Linked DNA regions of Homo sapiens: region 2 is reported to be linked to region 1. The links are microRNA targets in miRTarBase. Many come from high-throughput screens and were not tested one by one. Region 1 holds a microRNA gene; the other region holds the end of a gene's coding sequence.

Region 1 (5,177 bases):
TCCACTTCACTTCAGCCTGGGTAACAGAGTAAGACCCTGTCTCTAAAAAAAAAAAAAAAAAAAAAAGGAATTATAATAATAATTTTTTTTTTGAGATGAAGTCTCACTTTGTCGCCCAGGCTGGTGTGCAGTGGCACGATCTCGGCTCACTGCAACCTCCACCTCCCGGGTTCAAGCGATTCTCCTGCCTCAGCCTCCCAAGTAGCTGGGACTACAGGCACCCATCACCATGCCCAGCTAATTTTTGTATTTTTAGTAGAGACGGGGTTTCACTATGTTGGCTAGGCTGGTCTCGAACTCCTGACCTCGTGATCTGCACGCCTTGGCCTCCCAAAGTGCTAGGATTACAGGCATGAGCCTCTGTGCCTGGCCATAAAAAATTTTAAAACACACAAAAGAATCCTTCTTAATCCCGCCACCCCAAATCTCTGTATTATGTTAACATCTTGGTTTGTATCCTAGATGGCTGGATGAATAGATGAATGGATGTTTTTTAGTTTTTAGACAAAGGTGGAATCATGACTCTGTTCTTTTGCTTGCTTTTTAAAAGAAACTAGATGAAATACACTCTAAACATCTTCCCATGTCAACAGAATATCATTTTTTTTCTTATCTATTCTTCACCATTCATCCTAAACCCACATTGTTGGCTTCAAGTAAACTCACCCTCAAATAGTAATTATCCCTTCTATTTGCCTATCTTTTTATAGCTTTGATTCCCACAAGGCTGTGAGATAGGCAGGAAAAGGATTATCTCTACTTAACAGATAATTTTAAGAGTTAACAGTTTGTTCAGGGTCATATAGGGTCAAGTAGGAGAGCCAAGATCCAGAGCCCATCTGTTCAATTCCAAAGCCCATGGGCTTTCCATTACATCCCATTGCCTCATACTATGTATCTGATTGTGTGGCACGGACTTAAAAGTTAAGCTAACCTGGGTACCAATCCTGGCTCCAACAATTCCCAGCTATACAACCTTCAAGCAAGTTAGCTAAGTCCCCTAAGCTCAAGTTTCTTGTAGGGTGTGGCGAGAATGACTTGATAAAATTCACATCAAATACTTAACATGGTAGCTGGTGGTTACTGCTGAGGGCTGACTGACCCATTCATGTCCAGTGAGTAAGTCTGACAGGGCTGTGCTCTGGCTTGAAAGAGGTCCTGTACGCTCTGCCAAACCCTAAATTCCTACCCATATTCCCATCCCAATTACAAGCAGAATGAGGACCTGCCAGTGCTACTTTAGACATAGAACAGAAACCTTCCCACTTAGCCTGGTGCATCACGGCAGGAAGCTACAAGACAAAGCCAGGCCCTGGGGCTCCCAGTTAGAGGAAGTGAGAAAAAGACGTGTACCCTGGGAAGAAAAAGGGATGCATTTCCGTTCCCATCCAAGCCTCACTTCCTTAGAAAGACATTTCAGGTAGATTAACACACCATCTCTGTGCTGTTTTCCATATGCCATTTGGGGGGGCATTTTGTGGTTATTTTTAAGAGACTGCACTTGTAACAAAACAAAAAGTAAGCTTTCTGTTTTCCTTTCTGGGTCATGAGCTGGTCTCAACCCTCCAAATTCAACTGTCACTGGAAGTCTTTGTGGAGTTGGAATTTCTATTGGGAGTGGCTGTGAAGGTAGGAAGAACATCAGCAAATGTGGTGATATGGTTTGAATGTGTTCTCCCAAAGTTCTTGTGCTGGACACTTAATCCCCAATGCAACAGTGTTGAGAGGTGGGAACTTTTGGAGGTGACTGGATTGATGTTATTATTGTGGGAGTGAATTTATTTAAAAAGTAAGTTACCCTCCCTCATGTGTTCTCTTGCCATGTGATGCCTTCTATCAGGTTACTATGCAGCAAGAAGGTCCTCCCCAGATACAGCCCCTGATCTTGTACTTCCCACCCTCCAGAACCATGAGCCAAATAAATTTCTTTTCATTGTAAGTTATCCACTTTTTTTTTTTTGAGACAGGGTCTCACTCTGTCACTCGAGCAGGAGGATTGCTTAAGCCTGGGAGGTCGAGTCTGCAGCAAGCTGTGACCACGACACTGCAGCCTTGACCTCCCAGGCTCAAGCAATCCTGCCTTAGTCACCCAAGTAGCTGGGACTACAGGCATGTGCCACCCCACCTGGTTGATTTTTGTAATTTTTGTGTGTGTAAAGACAGATTTTGCCATGTTCCCCAAGCTGGTCTCAAACTCCTGGGCTCAAGCTCAAGTGATCTGCCCATGTTAACCTCCCAAAGTGCTGGAATTACAGGCATGAGCCACTGCACCAGGCCCCAGTTTCAGGTATTCTTATAGCAGCACAAAACAGACTAAGACAGACACACAATGTCATAAAAATGAAGGAGAAGAGGGGCTTAAAAAGAAAGAAGGCACTCTGAACTTTTCCTACAGATAAACTCACTTATATAGGAAACTAGGAAGTTATTCAAAGGGTGATGTAGAGTTAGATAAGCAGATAAGAAACAATCTCCAAGACAGAGGGGAATAATGCAAGATACAGAAATTGTACACAGCATGCTAACATCCTTGTGTGTGATGTAGACTATTTCTGGGCCTGAACACATCTTCTCTAGAAGGTCACACAAGAACCTGGTTGCAATGGGTGTCTCTGGGAAGGAGAACCAGGAAGCCTAGCTAGGAGCCATGGGTGAGGGGAATCTTAATTTCACTTTGTAGCTTCTGATGCTGCTTGAATATTTTATTTTTTCACATTTTTTTAAAGGAGAAAGGATTAGAGCACCTAATAATATGGTGAGGTCAAGAAAGATGAGACAAGCTTATGAGAAGAGGCAGTTTTCAGGTCATTGATGACTCAATGAGAAAAATATCAATAGGATGGCGGGAGCAGAAGCCAGATTGCACCAAACTGAGGAAACAATAAATTGTCATCAAGTGGAAATAGCAGGAACTGGCAACTCTTTCAAAAGTGTGTTTGTATGCAAAGTAAGGTAGGGTAGTAATCATAGCAGTAGTAAGAGTAGTAGTAAGGAGGATTCCCAGGTTTGAGGTAGGGGATTTTTAACATGAAAAAGACATAGCAGGTTTATGCACAAAGGAGAAGGCCAGGATAGAGTCAGAAAGGACAGCTGCTGTTTTTGCCCAGCCAGCAGGCATTGTCTTTTCTTCTAGTGACAGTGGCTTTATTTTTCTTTTTTTCTTTTTTTTTTTTTTTGAGACGGAGTCTCGCTCTTTTGCCCAGGCTGGACTGCAGTGGCGCTATCTCAGCTCACTGCAAGCTCCGCCTCCTGGGTTCACGCCATTCTCCTGCCTCAGCCTCCCGAGTAGCTGGGACTACAGGTGCCCGCCACCGCGCCCAGCTAATTTTTTGTATTTTTTAGTGGAGATGGGGTTTCACCGTGTTAGCCAAGATGGTCTCGATCTCCTGACCTCATGATCCACCCGCCTCAGCCTCCCAAAGTGCTGGGATTATAGGCGTGAGCCACCACACCCGGCCATGACAGTGGCTTTTTTTTCTTAAAGGAGATATTCCTTCTCTTCTTTCAAAATGTCTGATTTAGATAGGACATTCCTTCTCTTTTTTCAAAATGTCTGGATTAGATCCAGCTCTCTGGCTAAGAGGGGCTGGTGACCCAGGCCCGGTCAATCAGCACATTCCATCCCCCTGGTGCAGTGAGCAATTCCCTTAGAGATGGGCATATGACCCAATAATCTTCCAAAAAGATTGAGTCCTAGGCTGCTGGGATTTTATAAAAAGGAAGCCCTTTTCTTTGGTAGAAGTTGCAGAGATAATGGGACATAAATTGGGAGTTGCTATGTGCCCAAGAAAGCCTTCTGAGAATGAAGAATGAAGTCAACACAGTGGGGAAAGTAATCCTAAGGGATATAGATAAATGTTTCCCTGCTGGCATTGTTTGGGACCAGATGTAGATGATCCATCTACATCTGAATACTAACTATCATTATTTTTTGCTTAAAAGTCAGTTTAAATCAGATTCCTATTTGAAACCATAGGAGTTTTGTTGATACAGAGAGAAGCTGTAGACAGACTAAACAGGGGAGATAAGCATGAAGGATCAAGAGGCTGGAGTCCAGAGCAGGAGTGAGGGTAAGTCTCACATGAGTTGGGGGAGGGAAAACATATTTGCTAAGACAGAGATGGAAGCTGGGCAAGGAGGTCAAGATGACTATGGAGGTGCCGGTAGGTGGTAAGAAGCTGACGGCTACCAACCAGTGGCACCCATGGGCCTCAATCTTCCTCACGATTTAGGGCAGGGATCCCCAATCCCTGGGCCATGGACCAGTATCAAAATAACAATAATAATAATAAATAATAATATAATAGTACATGACTCAAAGTCATGTATCTGGTAGGTTCTATGGTTGACTTGCCCCGCCAAAGTTCATGTGTTAGAAACTGAATCTCCAATGCAACAGTGTTGAGAGGTGGCACCTCATGAGAACTTAACAACATTATCTTGGTAGTGGGATCCTAATAAAAGGGATGAGTTTGGCTCCGTATCTTTCCCCTGCATGTGCACACACATGTATGCATATGCATATATATGCACACACATGCACGCATACTCTCTCTTGCCCTTCACCTTCTGCCATGGGATGACACAGCAAGAAGTCTCTCACCAGATGCAAGCCCCTCACCCTTGGACTTCCCAGCCTCCAGAACTGTAAGAAATAAATTTCTTTTCTTTATAAATTATCTAGTCTGTGGTATTCAGTCATAGCAACACAACATGGACTAAGACAGAAACTGATTTAGGAACTTCACCTGGCTCAGGAACCTGACAATTCCAACCATCTAAAGGGAGCCTGGTTTGATCTGAAGTTTAAATGGGTTCTCCATGGGTGTGTAGATAGGTGGAGAGAGATAAACAGACTCCAAGCTGTGTGTCCTAAATGGCTCTTGGCTATTTGTTTGTCAGTATATAAATGTAGGTTGATATTTTTATTAAGATCTCTGCAAACTCCACACAGTGGATACCCCAAAAGAACAACCAGAAATGAGCAGGGAAACCTCTACTCCTTAATGAGCCTGTCTCGGCTGCCTCATTTCAATGCTGCCATGCCCTTCTTTCAGAGGTTAGTCAATGCATGCCGTCTTTGTCAGCCTCAAAATCAAAGCCCTAAGGAACAAATAAGATTTGCATCTTTTAAAATCCTGACAACGAATTATAAAAGCTGTGAAGATGCTACTTAT
Region 2 (5,000 bases), not on the chromosome of region 1:
CCATAGCTTTATTTTCAGATTTCTTCCTTTGAGACTGTTTCCAACATGAACTTGTTTTTAAAATTTCTTATGTAATAGATGATGTGTTGAATCATTCACAATTTTTAAAAAATTAGTTTGCAGATACTCCTCAGACATCAGTGTGTTAAGTTGTGGTTATCTTAAAAATATCAAAGACTAATACTGGAATATGTATTCTACACATATATCATTTATTTCTTTGATCTTTCTATTTGTTGTAGGTGTGTTGATTTCTGGTTTTCTATTCTGTGATTAGGCTCTGCTTGATTTTTGTGTAAATACATATGTGATTTTTTTTTTCTTGTGTTTGCTGAAGATTTTTTCTTTTTCTTCCAAGTCAATCACCTTCTGCTGCTTGGATGGGTGGATTTGGTGCTCAGCCTCCCCAAGGACAAGCTCCTCCCCCTGTAATACCTCCTCCTAACCAAGCCGGATATGGTATGGCAAGTTACCAAACACAGTGAGCCGGGACTCTAAAAAAAAATTGTAATTCATGATAGGCTTCGATTTCCTGTGACACTCTGAAGACATGAAAGTAGACATCGGAAAATGAAAATATTTATTTTAAAAATTGAAATGTTTGGAACCTTTAGCACAGATTTGCTTTGGTGAAGGACACGTGTCTTCTAGTTCTGCCTTTTTAAGTTTTTGTTCATGATGGATATGAACATGATTTTTCTTTATGTACAAAAACTAAAATAAAGTCAATAAAGACAATTCTGACTACAAATTTTGATATAATAGGAAAAATGGCTAATACATTTTGATTCTTAGATACTATTCCATTTTTATCTTGCTGTTCAGTATTTTAACTCACTGTGTTTTTAAAAGAGCAAAAAAGGGAGGATCGTGAAAACCTGGGAATCACATATAAGTTCATCCTGAATCCTGATACTCCCCTCCCCTTCCCTGAGGTGGACCACATTTGAAGTCAGCAGAGAAAAAGTGTGATATTCAGAAGAAATGCGTGATTTTGGAGTCGCTTTGGAGGAAATATTTTCTTTCTCTATGCCTAAAGAAACTGAAGCCAGACTGAAGTTTTGCACCCTAAAAAAGGAACAGCATTGTTTGAGTTACTTGAGCAAATGTTGGTGGTCCACGTTAAGACATATTTTTAAAACTTCCAAAAGTGTCGATTATTAAAATTGTAGTATTTTACATTTCATTTTGGGGGGAAATCCAAGTATGGTGTTTGTATTGAAGTCAGACAGTCATACTTGTGCTTTTACATGAAGTTTAAATGATACATATTGTAAATATTCAATAACTACAGTGTTTAAAAAGCATGCTTCAACATAGAAGTAGCAGCAATGTAATTATTTGAAGTAACACTTAACACACTCCGCTGCATTGAATGCAGTGGATTGATCAGAATGTTAAGACTGACATTTCCAAGGTTGGCTACTATGTAAAATTAAAATTACACAAATTGTGCAGAAAAAGCCTTAATTTTAATTTCATACAATCTTTGATGCATTAGTATGTTCTAAAATGTCATTGGGAATTAGTTTTTTGTTTTTGTTTTTTTTTTTTTTTTTTTTTGCTTTACATTACTTGGTATGTAAATACCTTGATTAAAACCTTGTAAACCAATTTCAAGGTTACTATAAGTTGTATAGTACAAGTGTTTTTTAAAAATCTTGGGGTGTTTTTAAAAATTAAGATATATTTTGCCCAAGAATTTTTTTAACAAGATTGCTAAAAACATCTTATTTAGACACTTCAATGTACCAATTTATAATTGGATATTCAGTTTAAATAGTACACAGAGTTGTGGCTTTTATTTTCAATTAATTTTTTTCCTTGTGGGCAGTGTGCATGGTATAATAAGCCTGAGCAGAGGCTTAAGTTGTATGTGTGCAGAGTTTGTAAAGGAATCAATTGGAAGATGCAGAAGACCGAGGTTTGCTTTCAAGGTATTTTTCAGGCTGTGTGGGTAAAATTTGCCTCAAATTTCTATCAAACAGGAATGTAAAATAGATAAAATCCTATGTATTTGAATTGTCAGAGCTAGGGAGTGCAAATGTTTTGGCAATGTATTCAAAATGCTGGCCTGGGCACCAAAGAGAAAATAGCCTTTTACAGTTACATAGTAAGATGCGATTAGTACCCACAAATTACTGTTTTCTAAACATTTGAAGTTTTACGATTAGCTTTAAAATAATGATTTTATAAATTGGTGGTCACAATAATTTTGGTATTACTTTCCTCCTTTTCCCACTTAGCAATATAGCCAAATGTATTCAACATAAAAATTCATAGGGTCTGAAATTCATAGCTGGGCCAAATTTTTTATGGCACCTTAGTTTTACCATAATGGTCATCTATTACACTCTTCTGTTATAAAATATACCCTTATTTCTTTTGTTTATAGTATCTTTGAGGAATGTTTTTGGAAAAGTTAATTTATATTTTATAGGGAGAACACTCAATAAATTATGTTAACTGTGCCCCCGAGTTAAAAATTTTATGAGTATATGTGAAACTTGAACAACTGAAGACTTTTTTTAATTGATAAAAATGCTTAGTATGCCTGTTTTGGTCTGCCAGTAAATTAAGTAGCTTATTGAGATAACTAACAGCTAAATATAGCTGTAGTGTTTCCTGACTGTATATTCTATGATTTAATAAAATTATCCAGACTAGTTATATTGCCACAGTAAACATGTGACTGAAGTGTCCTTCATCTTAATCTGAAAGAGGGCAAAATTTCATGATCAGTTAATGGAAGTTATTTCATATTAAGTGGTTTTTTTTTTTTTTTTTTTTTAGATGGAGTCTTGCTCTGTCGCCAGGCTGGAGTACATGTAGTGATGAGAACTTGGCTCACCGCAACCTCTGCTTCCCAGATTCAAGCGATTCTCCTGCCTCAGCCTCCTGAGTAGCTGGGATTACAGTCACGTGCCACCATGCCCAGCTAATTTTTTTGTGTTTTTAGTAGAGATGGGGGTTTCACCATGTTGGCCAGGATGGTCTCGATCTCCTCACCTCGTGATCCGCCCGCCTCAGTCTCCCAAAGTGCTGGGACTACAAGCGTGAGCCACGGTGTCTGGCTTTTTTTTTTTTTTTTTTTTGAGACGGAGTCTTGCCCTGTCGCCAGGCTGGAGTGCAGTGGTGCAATCTCGGCTCACCGCAACCTCCGCCTCCTGGGTTCAAGCTATTCTCCTGCCTCAGCCTCCCGAGTAGCTGGACTACAGATGCATGCCACCATGTCTAGTAAATTTTTGTATTTTTAGTAGAGACAGGGTTTCACCATGTTGGCCAGGATGGTCTCAATCTCCTGACCTCGTGATCCACCCACCTCGGCCTCCCAAGGTGCTGGGATTACAGGCGTGAGCCACTGCACCTGGCCATTAAGTGGTTTTTAAAATACAAAGCTACTTATCCAAATGAAATGTACCATTTAAAAACTACAACTGGGCCGGGCGCAGTGGCTCAGCCTGACCAACATGATGAAACCCTGTCTCCACTAAAAATACAAAATTAAGCGTGGTGGCCCGTGCCTGTAGTCTCAACTACTCAGGAGGCTGAGGCAGGAGAATCTCTTGAACCCAGGAGGCGGAGGTTGCCCTGAGCCAAGATTGTGCTATTGCACTCCACCCTGGGAAATAGAGCAAGACTCCGTCTCAAAAAAAAAAAAAGTGCAACTGTTGCCGGGCATGGTGGTTCACACCTGTAATCCCAGCACTTTGGGAAGCTGAGGCGGGTAGTGGATCACCTAAGGTCAGGAGTTTGAGACCAGCCCAGCCAACATGGTGAAACCCCATCTCTACTAAAAATAACAAAAAAATTAGCTGGGCGTGCTGGTGGGCGCTGGTAGTCCCAGTGACTTGGGAGGCTGAGGCAGGAGAATTGAACCTGGGAGGTGGAGGTTGCAGTGAGCTGAAAATGCGCCACTGCACTCCAGCCTGGGCGACAGAGCGAGACTCCATCTCAAAAAATAAATGAATTAATTAAAAGTATGGCTGTTGAGCTAACAGATGATTTTATAACATGACCCAATGCTATCTTGATCCAACTTAAGCCTAAGAATCGTTGCTCCCCACCCCGTTCATCAAAAACATCAGCAGAGACTTTTTGGGCATGCAAGGAAATGTTTTTTATTTCATAATTATTTTGAGATTTATTTTGGTGATGTGTTTCTGACTGACTGCCATATTCTTTGTTCTCATAATTTCTCTACTAGTATTTTCACTCCCAACCCCCGTGCCATTCCCACTTGATTTTTATGTCTGCTGGCAGTGAGAGGCTAAAATGGCCAACTTAAGCCAAAGCTGTAAACAACAGTTGAAGTAAGTCTTTCAATAAAGACTAGACTATATGATAAGTGGCTTTTTCTTATTGTCGTTTATTACATAATTATTCTACCAGGTTGCCATGAAATAAGCAACTGGGTTTTAAGTTTTCAGTAGTTATGTGGAGTATGTATGTAGTCAGGACCTATTTCCATGTTCTGTGTAAGTGTTAACAAGTCCATTAGCTTTGCTGAATTTAATCTCTGGATATGAAGGAGTAGAAATTTGCATCCTTCTAAAAATGCATGCTCTGTTTAATATTAATATATTAAAATTTATTAATTTGGAGTCCTCAGATACGGGAACTAATTTTACTGTCTAGGTTGCTCTTTGGTAGTATCTATGAGTAAAGATGATACTTGACAAAAATAATTTAATAAATGTTTTAGATACTTTACTAGTATGTCCAAATTAAATTTTCCCTATTAAAAGCATTTGAGCTTCTACTTAATACATTATAAACATTGACTTTGCAATTTTATTACGTATTGGAAAGATGCAAAACCTATTTCCTTTAGACTTTTACTAGTTTTTGTAAGCCTTCACTCTTAAGTGGTCCAAATGAGGGTTTTGCTTAAATGTGTATTCTACTATGTTTAGTAATTAAATATTCTCGTAATTGGCCAGGCACAGTGGCTCACACCTGTAATCCCAGCACTTTGGGAGGCTGGGGTGGGCAGATCA

What was found. Region 1 holds the annotated microRNA hsa-miR-1273h-5p (CUGGGAGGUCAAGGCUGCAGU, at 2,044-2,064, opposite strand). A microRNA usually pairs through its seed, bases 2 to 8, with sites in the 3' UTR of a target mRNA and lowers its output. Matches are read on the target gene's strand: a 7mer-m8 pairs with bases 2 to 8, a 7mer-A1 pairs with bases 2 to 7 and ends in A, and an 8mer does both.
Region 2: miRTarBase lists TIAL1 as a target of hsa-miR-1273h-5p. The part of its 3' UTR that is shown has no 7-base or 8-base seed match.

The regions. Positions count from the first base shown.
Region 1 is chr16:24,200,035-24,205,211 of GRCh38, reverse strand. MIR1273H (microRNA 1273h) reads right to left here and starts at 2,096; the gene lies at 1,981-2,096. The region is part of intron 16 of PRKCB (protein kinase C beta); the gene reads right to left.
Region 2 is chr10:119,571,150-119,576,149 of GRCh38, reverse strand. It overlaps TIAL1 (TIA1 cytotoxic granule associated RNA binding protein like 1), which reads left to right. Exons shown (of 12, transcript NM_003252.4): 12 at 359-2,685. The coding sequence ends at 485. Among named protein-coding and RNA genes, the nearest start is that of TIAL1, 23 kb to the left of the region's middle.